Regions from separate parts of the Homo sapiens genome. Here region 2 is linked to region 1. Evidence: fine-mapped expression QTL. A gene starts in region 1. The other region holds a variant in brackets. All regions are shown on one strand. Distances are from middle to middle.

Evidence for each region. PIP is the estimated chance that this variant, and not a neighbour inherited with it, causes the effect.
Region 2: its variant is the best candidate, but not a certain one, in a credible set for the expression of DPH7 in nucleus accumbens (GTEx, PIP 0.50).

Annotation. Positions count from the first base shown.
Region 1 is chr9:137,576,588-137,581,587 of GRCh38, forward strand. DPH7 (diphthamide biosynthesis 7) reads right to left here and starts at 2,338. Exons shown (of 9, transcript NM_138778.5): 1 at 2,038-2,338; 2 at 883-1,016. The coding sequence starts at 2,190. RefSeq lists a silencer at 2,024-2,433 and enhancers at 2,618-3,589, 2,684-2,743.
Region 2 is chr9:137,602,738-137,608,242 of GRCh38, forward strand. ARRDC1 (arrestin domain containing 1) reads left to right here and starts at 2,949. Exons shown (of 8, transcript NM_152285.4): 1 at 2,949-3,098. The coding sequence starts at 2,981. It overlaps LOC124902318 (a long non-coding RNA gene), which reads right to left and starts at 2,601. Exons shown (of 3, transcript XR_007061885.1): 1 at 2,560-2,601. RefSeq lists silencers at 2,211-3,340, 3,351-3,620. The variant T/C (reference allele first, on the strand shown) is at 2,457.

The DNA.
Region 1 (5,000 bases):
AACAAAAATGAGGTGTGGTAAGGCCAGGCGTCGTGGCTCACGCCTGTAATCCCAGCACGTTGGGAGGCTGAGGCGGGTGGATCACGAGGTCAGGAGATCAAGACCATCCTAATAACATGGTGAAACCACGTCTCTACTAAAAATACAAAAAAATAAGCCGGGTGTGGTGGCGGGCGCCTGTAGACCGAGCTCTTAGGGAGGCTGACGCAGGAGAATGGCGTGAACTCAGGAGGCGGAGCTTGCAGTGAGCCGAGACCGCGCCACTGCACTCTAGCCCGGGCGACAGAGCGAGACTCCGTCTCAAAAAAAAAAAAAAGAGGCATGGTGGCATCTACCTGAAGTCTGAAGTCTCAGCTACTCGAGAGGCTGAGACAGAGAATTGCTTGAGCCCAGGAGTTCAAGGCTGCAGTGAGCTATGATCACGTGACTGCATTCCAGCCTGGGCAACGGAACAAAACCCTGCCTCAAAAAAAAAAAAATTAAAAAGGATAAAAACTGGTACACCTGTATAGGGCATCTCCATTACGTTAAGGCACCACCATGGTATACGTGCTCCATTGTTGACCAAAACATAATTATGCCACACACCACTGCATTTAAATCTCAGCTCCAAAAGTGGGCTAGAGCCTACAACTGTGTTCTCAAACAAAAGACGCCCCAGGTTATGAAGTCAGAAAACTCCCATCACTTCCCCGGCTGGAACATGACAAAGGAAATAAGCCCCAGGTAAAGCACTCCCCAGGTGGAAGATAGGCGGGACAGCAAAGAAACAAATCCAAAGTTGAGATGCAATGCCTGTCTTGTTGAAGGCATCAGGCATCAGGCTTCCCTGATTGCTACTCATGACAAATTCTACACCCAGTGGGATTATCACAGTTATACCATTTCATGTCCAGGATTGCAGAAGTATCTTTTCTTTGGACCTCGACCAGAGGGTGAATAGAGTTGTTGTCATTGAAACTGTACAGGAAGAGACGGCCTAAACGGACCTGAGGCTCCTTAACTTCCATTCCACCCTACAAAAAATGCAGAGGTAGTCTCTGATTATCCCAAGACACGAAGGAACCCAAAGGATGGGAAAAGGGATCCAAGGAACTCAAAGGTTTGCCATGACTAAAGGAGTGGAATTCTGCCTGGAAGGAGAACCTCTGGTTTTCTGAGCTGGAGAAACGTCTATTAATGAGTAGGTGAACACTCCTGGACCCAGTAGAGAAGGCTCCTTCTAAACCGGCCAACAGGGACCAGCTATGGCTAGGGTAACCACAGAACCCAGTTTGCCTGGGACAGTCCTGACTTACGCCTGTTGTTCCAGTGCCCAATTTGGATCCTAATATGTACCCACCAGAAGTTAAGATATAATTCCCACTTTCTCTTTACTGTACATTCCACCCATTCCCTTGGGCCACACCTGTATATAGAAGACGTTCTGCTCTCAAGATTTTAAAGTTGGCCGGGGGCGGTGGCTCGTGCCTGTGGTGCCAGCTACTCAGGGGGTTGAGGCGGGAGGATGCCCTGAGCCCTGGAGTCCGAGGCTGCACTCCAGCCTGGGTGACAGTGCAAGACCTTGTCTCAGAAAAAAGTAATTTCTTTTTTTTGAGATGTAGTCTTGCTGTATCGCCCAGGCTGGAATGCAGTGGTGCGATCTCGGCTCACTGCAAGCTCTGCCTCCCGGGTTCACGCCATTCTCCTGCCTCAGCCTCCCGAGTGGCTGGGACTACAGGCGCCGCCACCACGCCCGGCTAATTGTTTTGTATTTTTTTAGTAGAGACGGGGTTTCACCATGTTAGCCAGGATGGTCTCGATCTCCTGACCTCGTGATCCGTCCGCCTCGGCCTCCCAAAGTGCTGGGATTACAGGCGTGAGCCACTGCGCCCGGCCGAGAACAATTTTTTTAAAAAGATTCTAAACTGTTTCCAGCCTACCTCCTGGCCAAAGGGCCAATATCCCCTCTTCATCTCCTGGGCGATTCGGTGCGCCTTTCGGCCTCAACCTCGTGGCCGGCCCCGCCCTCCCCTCCCGAAGCCGCGGCGCGCGCACCTTGTTCTGGGGGCCGGCAGGCCGGTCCTCCGGCCGCCGCAGCTGGTAGGTCCCGCACGCCAGCAGGTGCCTGCAGCCTTGCAGCGGGCACCACTCCACCGAGTCCGCGGTCAGCTCGGTGTCCACCGTTTGCAGGGCGAAACAGCCCATCATCCAGCCCTCGGGGAAGGGCGCGGAGCCGGCAGTAGAGGCGGGTCGGCGGGGCCGGGCTGGGTACTGCGCGGGGCGGCGAGGCCGGGGCCGGCCGGACGAGCGCAGAGCCCCAGGGACACCGTCAGCGCGGGCCGCCTCTCTCGCGACTCCTTCCGGGGTGCCGGGGCGGGACATCCGGCAGGGCCTTGGCCTCCGTGGACGCCCCTGGGAAGCCAGGCTCCCACGCCCCCTGTCGGCCGGCTGACCGCGGCGGGCTTCAGGCGTCAGACGCGCTGCTCCCTGCGGGGCCGTAGAGACCGAAGGCTTCGGGAAATCCGCTCCTCCACAAAGCAGGTTTGGAGACGGCAAGTTAGTGACAGAGCCGTAGGTTTGAAGCCGCCTCTGCAAAATTTCTATCACTGAGAAAAACCCCAACAGCGAGCTGCGGTAGCGCACCCCGTGGCGCCCTCCCGGTTACTCCTGGCCATCGGGCCGCGCTGACTTAACATTTAGGCTGCAGTTTCCATGACAGGCCTTGCCCCGGAATCAACGCCTTCGTAAAGCTGATGAGGAGCCCGCGCCCCACTAAGCCCAGCACCCCGAGGCCGCAGGCGCGCTCTGCCTGCCTCCTGTGAACCCGCCATGGCGGAGCTGCCCCTCAGAGACCGCCTTCCAGGGTCTTTGCTTGTCTGACACCCGTGGCTGCATCAGGACCCCCCAGAAGCGGCTCAGCAGGTGGACGGCTCCGACCCCTATGATTATCAGCACCAGTCGCCTGGCCGCCGCCCCCCTCCCCCAAAACTGCCTTTGAAAAAACCCCTAACCTAGGAGCTTTGGACAAGATGATCTGAGGACGAACTCCATCTCACATGTGGCCTGGCCGGCCCGTGTCTATTAATTTTTTTGTTTTTTTTTTTTGAGACGGAGTCTTGCTCTGTCACCCAGGCTGGAGTGCAGTGGCGCGATCTCAGTTCACTGCAAGCTCCGCCTCCCGGGTTTAAGCCATTCTCCTGCCTCAGCCTCCCCAGTAGCTGGGACTACAGGCGCGCATCACCACGCCCAGCTAATTTTTTGTATTTTTAGTAGAGACGGGGTTTCACCGTGTTAGCCAGGATGGTCTCGATCTTCTGACCTCGTGATCCACCCGCCTCGGCCTCCCAAAGTGCTGGGGTTACAGGTGTGAGCCACTGCGCCCGGCCCTAAACTTTTTTTCTTTATTGCAATCCACGGTCTGAATGTGTGCAGCGGGCAGGAAGAACCCCTTGGGCCGTTACAGGTTGAACTGTGCCCCCCAAAAAACAATGGACTGAAGACCCCAGCACCTCAGAGAGCATCCTTAACAAACAGGGGCTCTCAGAAGCAGCAGGCGTGGGCCCTGACCCAGAGGAGCAGGAGTCCGCAGAAGAGAAAGCTGATGCAGAAGACTTGCAGGGCCATTGCTGTGCAGAGCACAGGGAGGCAGGCAAGGCACCTGGCAGGGAGGAGGCGTCCGCACCTGAGGGCCCTTGCCTGCGCCTTCATCTGAGACTCCGGCCTCCAGAGCCTAGACTGTGAATTCCCGCTGCTTCAGGCTGCACAGCTCGCGCTGCTTTGTTGCGGCAGCTCCAGGAAGCTAAGGCGGACTTGACTGAAATATACGGGTGCCTGGGTATTCAGCCTCAGGGCTTCAAGCAGGGCTGTGGCTAAAGACATGGCAGAGAGCCAACAGCTCAGACCACCACAGAGACAGAGGCGCAGAAAAGGCTGGCCAGGAAGGCAGCAGGGCATTCCAAAAGGGCCTCAACCACACACCTCTGCGGGGGAGGGAGAGTGACCAGGTGCGCATCCCAACACACCACACTCCAAACAAGCTTTAGAAGCAGCCCCACATTGCAGCCATCTGGATGTCCTCACAGGACGTCTTAGATACCTGGCTACGAAGACCAAGAAGTCGGGGCCACGGAACGGGAAAGATGACCAGAGGATTGGGTATCAGGTGAGAGGGAAGCAGTGGTGGGGCCCGTCCCACCCTCACGGTGCCACCTGCTGGGGTGAGGCCTGGAGGAGCTGCCACATGCAAACCTAGAACCTGCACCGCCCCCTTCCCCAGCGTGGTGTCTCACAGGTGGGAGGCCCTGGGCGCTTCTTTCAGTGCACTTTTCTGATGAATGACTGCCAAACAAAGCAGCCCTGCTGGTCAGGGGCAACATGGCCACACCCCTGGATGCAGGTAAAGGGGACCCCTGCACTCCGTGCTCATCCTCAGACTCTATCTGAAAGCAGGCTGCCTGAGGGCACTCGGGGCTCCAGGCCTGAAGACTGCCCCAAACCCCAACCTGCTGACCCGCCATCTCTAGGGACACATATGTCCCCCTCCCTGGCAGCTTTCACCTACTCAGCAAAAAATGTCCCCAACCTTTGCAGCAGCTAAGGGGGCTTCTCAGGGCCTGATGTGGGCACATGCAGTTCTCTAAGCTCCAGGAAATCCTGCGGAGTTTGTTGATATCACCCATTTTCAGCAGTCCTGTTCTTCAGGAGCCCCCAGGGTACTGCCAGAAAAGGTACTGGAAGTTTTGCTTACAGACAAAAGCCAGCCCAGCCAGGGGCAGCAATGAGAACACACAGGGTGTCCTGGAACATGGCAGTGGAGCTTCAAGAAGGGAAAGTGTAGCAGCAACCTGTGGGACCAACACAGGGTCGGACCGGACCAGACCAGACAGGTCAGAGTCGGACTGGCCAGGCTTCCAGCTCCCAAGAAGCAAGGCCTCTGGCTGGGCGCACCTGGAGACAGGCAGGATCCCAGCCACACAGCCTGGCATGTTTCCCTGGGGCAGCTCTATGGGTACAAGATG
Region 2 (5,505 bases), 26 kb after region 1:
CTGCATCCCCCAGGGACAGATACCAGACGGCTAGAGCCCCCTGCTGTGACCTAGAGTCTGCTGACATGATTCAAGCTATCTAATCCTAAACTTGCTCACACTTACCTACCCTGCCTTGTCCATTTTCACCCTGAGGAAAACACAAAAAAGGCTCTGGGTCATGCTCTCTCCTGGCTCCTCCTGACCCTGGTACTTCCCCTTCTGGCCCTGCGTGGCATGGCAGGGCCCCTCCTCCTGAGAACCACGAGTACTAAATCCTTCCTTTGTGGCACTTGTCTTCTAGTCTGTCACTTTACTATACCTGATTCAAACAAAACCCAGGTACTTTTAGGATATAGGGCAGGAGGCTGGAAGGATTGCCTGTGTGGATTCAGAAGCACTGAGTTTCCACACTTGGAGATGGAGGGAATGACAGTGAGTTAGGAGCTAAAATCACCAAGAAATGAAGATGCCGACCAGAGCGAAGGTGGTGCTGGTGATTCTGAGACCAGGAAGCTTACACATGGTAGCTCCCAGGGTGGAGAATGGCCTGGTAGTGTTAGGAAGGAGCCAGGAGGGCCCCAACCCCACCTACAGACCCAGAGGTAGAGGGATCCTGCGAAAAGATATCTCTACACCCGAAAGCTCCAGGGGAAGCCAGGTTTTCATGAGAGTGCAGCTAGAAGTATGCTTGGAGAAGAAGAGTCTAATGACAGGGCGGTTGGTGCTGGTGGTGGTTTCTGGAACACAGGATGGGTGGGAGATAGGGTCAGAATCAAGGATGTGCAGAGTCCTGTGGGGCTTAGATTGTGGCTGACCTGGGATAAAGGCCACCTGTGTTCTGTGTCCATTGTCTTCCATCTCAGTAGCTTGCAATACAGTCTGTCTGTCCCTTGCTTGAAACACTTTCTTTTTTTTCTTTTTCTGTTTTTTTTTTTTGAAATGGAGTCTCACTCTGTTGCCCAGGCTGGAGTGCAGTGGCGTGATCTTGGCTCACTGCAAGCTCCGCCTCCTGGATTCACGCCATTCTCCTGCCTCAGCCTCCCAAGTAGCTGGGACCACGGCGCCTGTCACCACGCCCGGCTAATTTTTTTTTTTCTTTTTGTATTTTTAGTAGAGACGGGGTTTCACCATGTTAGCCAGGATGGACTCGATCTCCTGACCTCGTGATCCGTCCACCTCGGCCTCCCAAAGTGCTGGGATTAGAGGTGCGAGCCACCGCGCCCGGTGAAACACCTTCTTTCTGACTTCTGGCATGGCCGACTGCCATTCGGGAGGGCTGTCCACAATCCTTGCCATCCCATGGCACCCTTCTCTCTTGTTCGGGAATTCTGCCTGTGCATAGCCTTGGCAGGAAAGTGTCTGGAGCATGGCCAGTTAGACCCACCTCCGGAAACATCGGAATCCTAAGGGAGTGAGCTGGGCCTGGGGCTTCAGGGCCTCTCCCAGCCTGGCCCGGGGGCCCCTCCAGCCTGTGAGCCCCTTTCTCTTTGCTGGGGTGCCAGACTCCTCCTCCCTGACCTGTTACCTTCTACCAACTAGGGATGGCAACATTTTAGTGCTTGACTCCCAGGCTCATGCACGGAAGTACTTGGTCCATTGGGGATCAGTGGCACCTCAGACTCTGCATGTGATGACCCTCCCACCCCCAAACCATGTGTATCTAGGTCCGTCCTCCCCATCAGAGAAGGCCACCCTCTTCACCGGCTGTCCTAGAAAAACTCGCAGCACTGGGGCCCGCACACCCACTCCGTGGTGAGCTGGTCCTTGTCGAGCGACGCCTTCCCTCTCCAGGACTACCCAACCGGTCTCTCCCGCCTTAGGTCCCCTGGGTATTTGAGTCCCACCCCCCGCGGCTCACTCTCTACAAAGGGACCCTTTAAAAAAGATAAATGGGAGTGTGTTCCTCCTGGTTTCAAGTGATCCAAGTCCTCGCCCCACCTGGCCCCCGACCCTTCTGCTGCGGACCCCTGCCCAAGGGCCTCCGCCCAAGTGTGGCTCCCTTGGGCCCACACCCCATCAGGCCAGCAAGGAGGGGGATAGCGGGGGGCGGGGCAGGTGCTGGGACTCCGGGCAGGTGCGGGGAAGGCAGGGGGCGGGGGGGGAAGGGGTTGGGCGATGCAGGTGTTGGGGGCCGGGACAGTTGCGGGGGTAGGCAGGTACCGGGAAGGCGGGAGGGCGGGCAGGTTCCGGAGGGGCGCGACAGGTGCTGGGACGCGAGGTAGGTGCGGAGAAGGTTGGGGGTGCGGGGCAGGAGCCGGGGGTGGGGGTTGAGGCGGGGCAGGTCCTACGCGGCGGAGCATCCCCGCCCAGGACGCCCGCGCGGCCCCGTGACGTTTTTCCGCGACTCGGGGTGAGGGAGACCCCTGGGCGGGACGGGCGGAGGGTGGGGGCGGAGGAGTGGGTTCTGCCCGCAGCAGAGTGCAGCGGGGAGACCTTCCCAGTCTCAGAGCTCGCCTCGGCCCCGCCCCCAGCCC[T/C]GCCCCCCGACGGAGACGCGGCGGTGACTCCCTCCGTGGGGGACGCACGGGACGCTTGCGCCTCAAGTCCCTTAAGCGGCGCCCGACGCAGCGCAGCACCTACCCAGCCGGGACAGGGCCAGGGCCGGGGATGGATGAGCGCGGCCGGGGGGCGGGGCAGGGGTGGGGCGGCCGAGGCAGGGGCGGAGCTGGGAAGGCGAGGCAGGGGCGAAGGGCGGGGGCGGGGCGAGGAGGCTGTCAGAGGGGCGGGGAATAACGAGGGGGCGGGGCCACACGGACGGATGGGGCGGGGAATAGGGGCTGGGCCGGGCCTCCGAGCGGCAGTCCGCGGGCTACGGGGCGGCCGGGGGGCTGGGCGGGGCCGTGGGGCGGGGCAGGGCCTGGGAGGGGCCGGATGGGGGTGGAGGCCGGGATTGGGACGGATGGGGGCGGGGCATAGGAGGGGGCGGGGCCGGGCCTCGGAGCCGGGACTCGCGGGCGGCGGGCGGGGGCGTCGCTGCGCGGCTGGCCGGTGAGGCCGCGGCATGGGGCGAGTGCAGCTCTTCGAGATCAGCCTGAGCCACGGCCGCGTCGTCTACAGCCCCGGGGAGCCGTTGGCTGGGACCGTGCGCGTGCGCCTGGGGGCACCGCTGCCGTTCCGAGGTGGGCGCGGGTCCTCGGGGAGGGCCTTTGGCCGCACCTGCGCGGGGCCAGGGCTCCCGGAAGCGGCTGCCGTCGCCTGGCCCCGGGTTGGGCCCGCGGAGTCGCTGTCTTCGCCGCCCGGGACTGCTGGGAAGCGGGCTCGGCGGCGCCGGGGAGGTCCGGGCGGCGCCGCCCTTCCGCGTCTGCCCTTCCTGCCCTCTCGCCGAGGGGCGGCGGGGTCCCGGCGGGGCCTGAAGCGGGTCCACTGTGGAGGACGCCCTGAGCGCGGGCGCACGCAGGCCTGCGACCCTCCCCGTCCGCGCTCGCACCTGCTGGGCTCCTTCCCGCACCCTGGCTCCCGGCGCAGGCGCTCCCGCTGCAGAGCCGCTCCTGGCGCGGGCGTGCGGTCCCGGCGGGGTGCAGACACCTGCTGCGGCTCCCTGCGCCCCCTGCCACCCGCCAGCAGGCCTCGCCGGCCCCCCGCCGAGGTGGACGCCTGGGCCTCGGGGACTGGGTATCGGGTTGCTGCAGTGGCCGCTGGCAGGGCGCCCTGGAGGTGAGGGCCGGCCCGCGAGGTGAGGCTGCCTCTGCCCGGCCCTTGGCTGTGAGTGCCGCGTCCCTGCCGGGGACTTCTCTACCTTGGCCTCCTGTGGGAACCACCTGGGCTGCTTGGCCTGTGCCACAGCCCCTGGACTTGCCGCTGGACCTTGACCGCTGGGCCCGCGCGTGGGTAACAGCACCGATTTTGTGCCTGCTGAGAACCCACAGTCTCTGTTCTGTCCTCTCAGCCTCCTGGGACAGGTGATGGTGCTGTGGCCCTGACCCTGCACCGCCTGAGGCTGTGGGGCCTCGGAAGAAGCCGGGTGGTAGGTGCTTCTGTCAGGCTCCTGGCCCCACTGGGCCTCCTGGGATGACCCCACAGCCTCCCTTCCTCTGTCCCAACCTTGAGTTTGGGGTCTGGGTGGGGGCAGGTGTGGCCGTGGCAGGGCAGAGATAGCACACACATCTCTTGGGTACAGGTGTGGTGTGTGGTGAGGCCGGCTGGATCCTGGTTGAGGGCTGTGCAGGACCCTGTCGTCCTTCCCCTGGCGTGGCCTGGGGTGAGCAGGCCATTGCTTACCACAGGGAAGGGACGGCCCCGCGGTGCGTGACTGGCCTGGGTGTGCAGGCTCCCCTGGCCTCCGGGTGGACGTGGTGGGTGGGTTGAATGCTCACGCCTGTAATCCCAGCACTTTGGGCAGCTGGCCCAAGAGCCGAGGGAGCACTGGCTGATGGTCCTACCTCACAGAGGCTGGTCTGAATGAGGGAGAAAAAGGAGGGTCGTGAGCTAAGGAGTAGGAGATGGGCCCTGATGGGCCAGAGAGCACATGATTCAGGCTGCTGCAAGTGAGGTGGGAGGGTGTACCGGGGCCCCCGGGGGTTTCCCCCAGCCCTGCCTGGGATGGGAACAGAAGGACCATGGTTTCTTTTCCTCATTCAGAGGATGCTTGTCAATCCTGCTAGGAGCCAGTAGGGAGGCCCTCAGCCCCCAGGAGGACAGCAGCCCTGCCTGGGCCCCAGAGCTTGCTCACTTACTCTGCCGATGAGTGTCGGTGACAGTCAGCACCCAGCCGTGAGGACACCGGCTGTCTAAAGGGCTGACGCGGAGGGAGGCCTGGGAGGGAGCAGTTTTCTGGAGCTCAGGCTGGCCCAGTCCAGGGCTGGGGTTCAGGCAGGACCACTTCTTGTTCTGCTGTTACTGGGATGGGCGACCAGGGCCGACAGTGGTTCTCGGAGCACTCATGGTGGGCCCGATGCAATTCTCTCCACGTGCCACGGGCCAGCCTCAGTTAACCCTCAGCGCCCTGGCAAGTGGCACGGTTGTTACTCTCATGATACAGATTTGGAAACAGGACTGGGGGAGTGGCTTACAGGTCACAGCTTCTGTGGCAGGCGTGAGTCCTTTGGGATGAGGATGAGGAGTGGGTGGGTCTTCATGGTCCAAGTGCAGGTGGTGCAAGGGAGGGGCTGCTGAACAGGTGGGAGCCCCAGCTGGAGAAGAAAGTTCCAGTGGTCACTTGAGAACGCAGCCCAGTCATGATCTTCCTTAGAGTCAGAGAGGCCTGCAGCCTCCAGCAGCTTGTCCTTGCTTGTGCATCTGAACACAGGAAACATTTTTTATTTTTATTTTTTTAATTTATTTTTTCGAGACGGAGTCTCCCTCTGTCGCCCAGGCTGGAGTGTGCCGGCGCGATCTCGGCTCACTGCAAGCTCCGCCTCCCCGGTTCACGCCATTCTCCTGCCTCAGCCTCCTTAAGAGCTGGGACTACAGGCGCCCGCCACCACACCCGGCTAATTTGTGTATTTTTAGTAGAGACGGGGTTTCACCGTGTTAGCCAGGAGGGTCTGGATCTCCTGACCTCGTGATCCGCCCGCCTCGGCCTCCCAA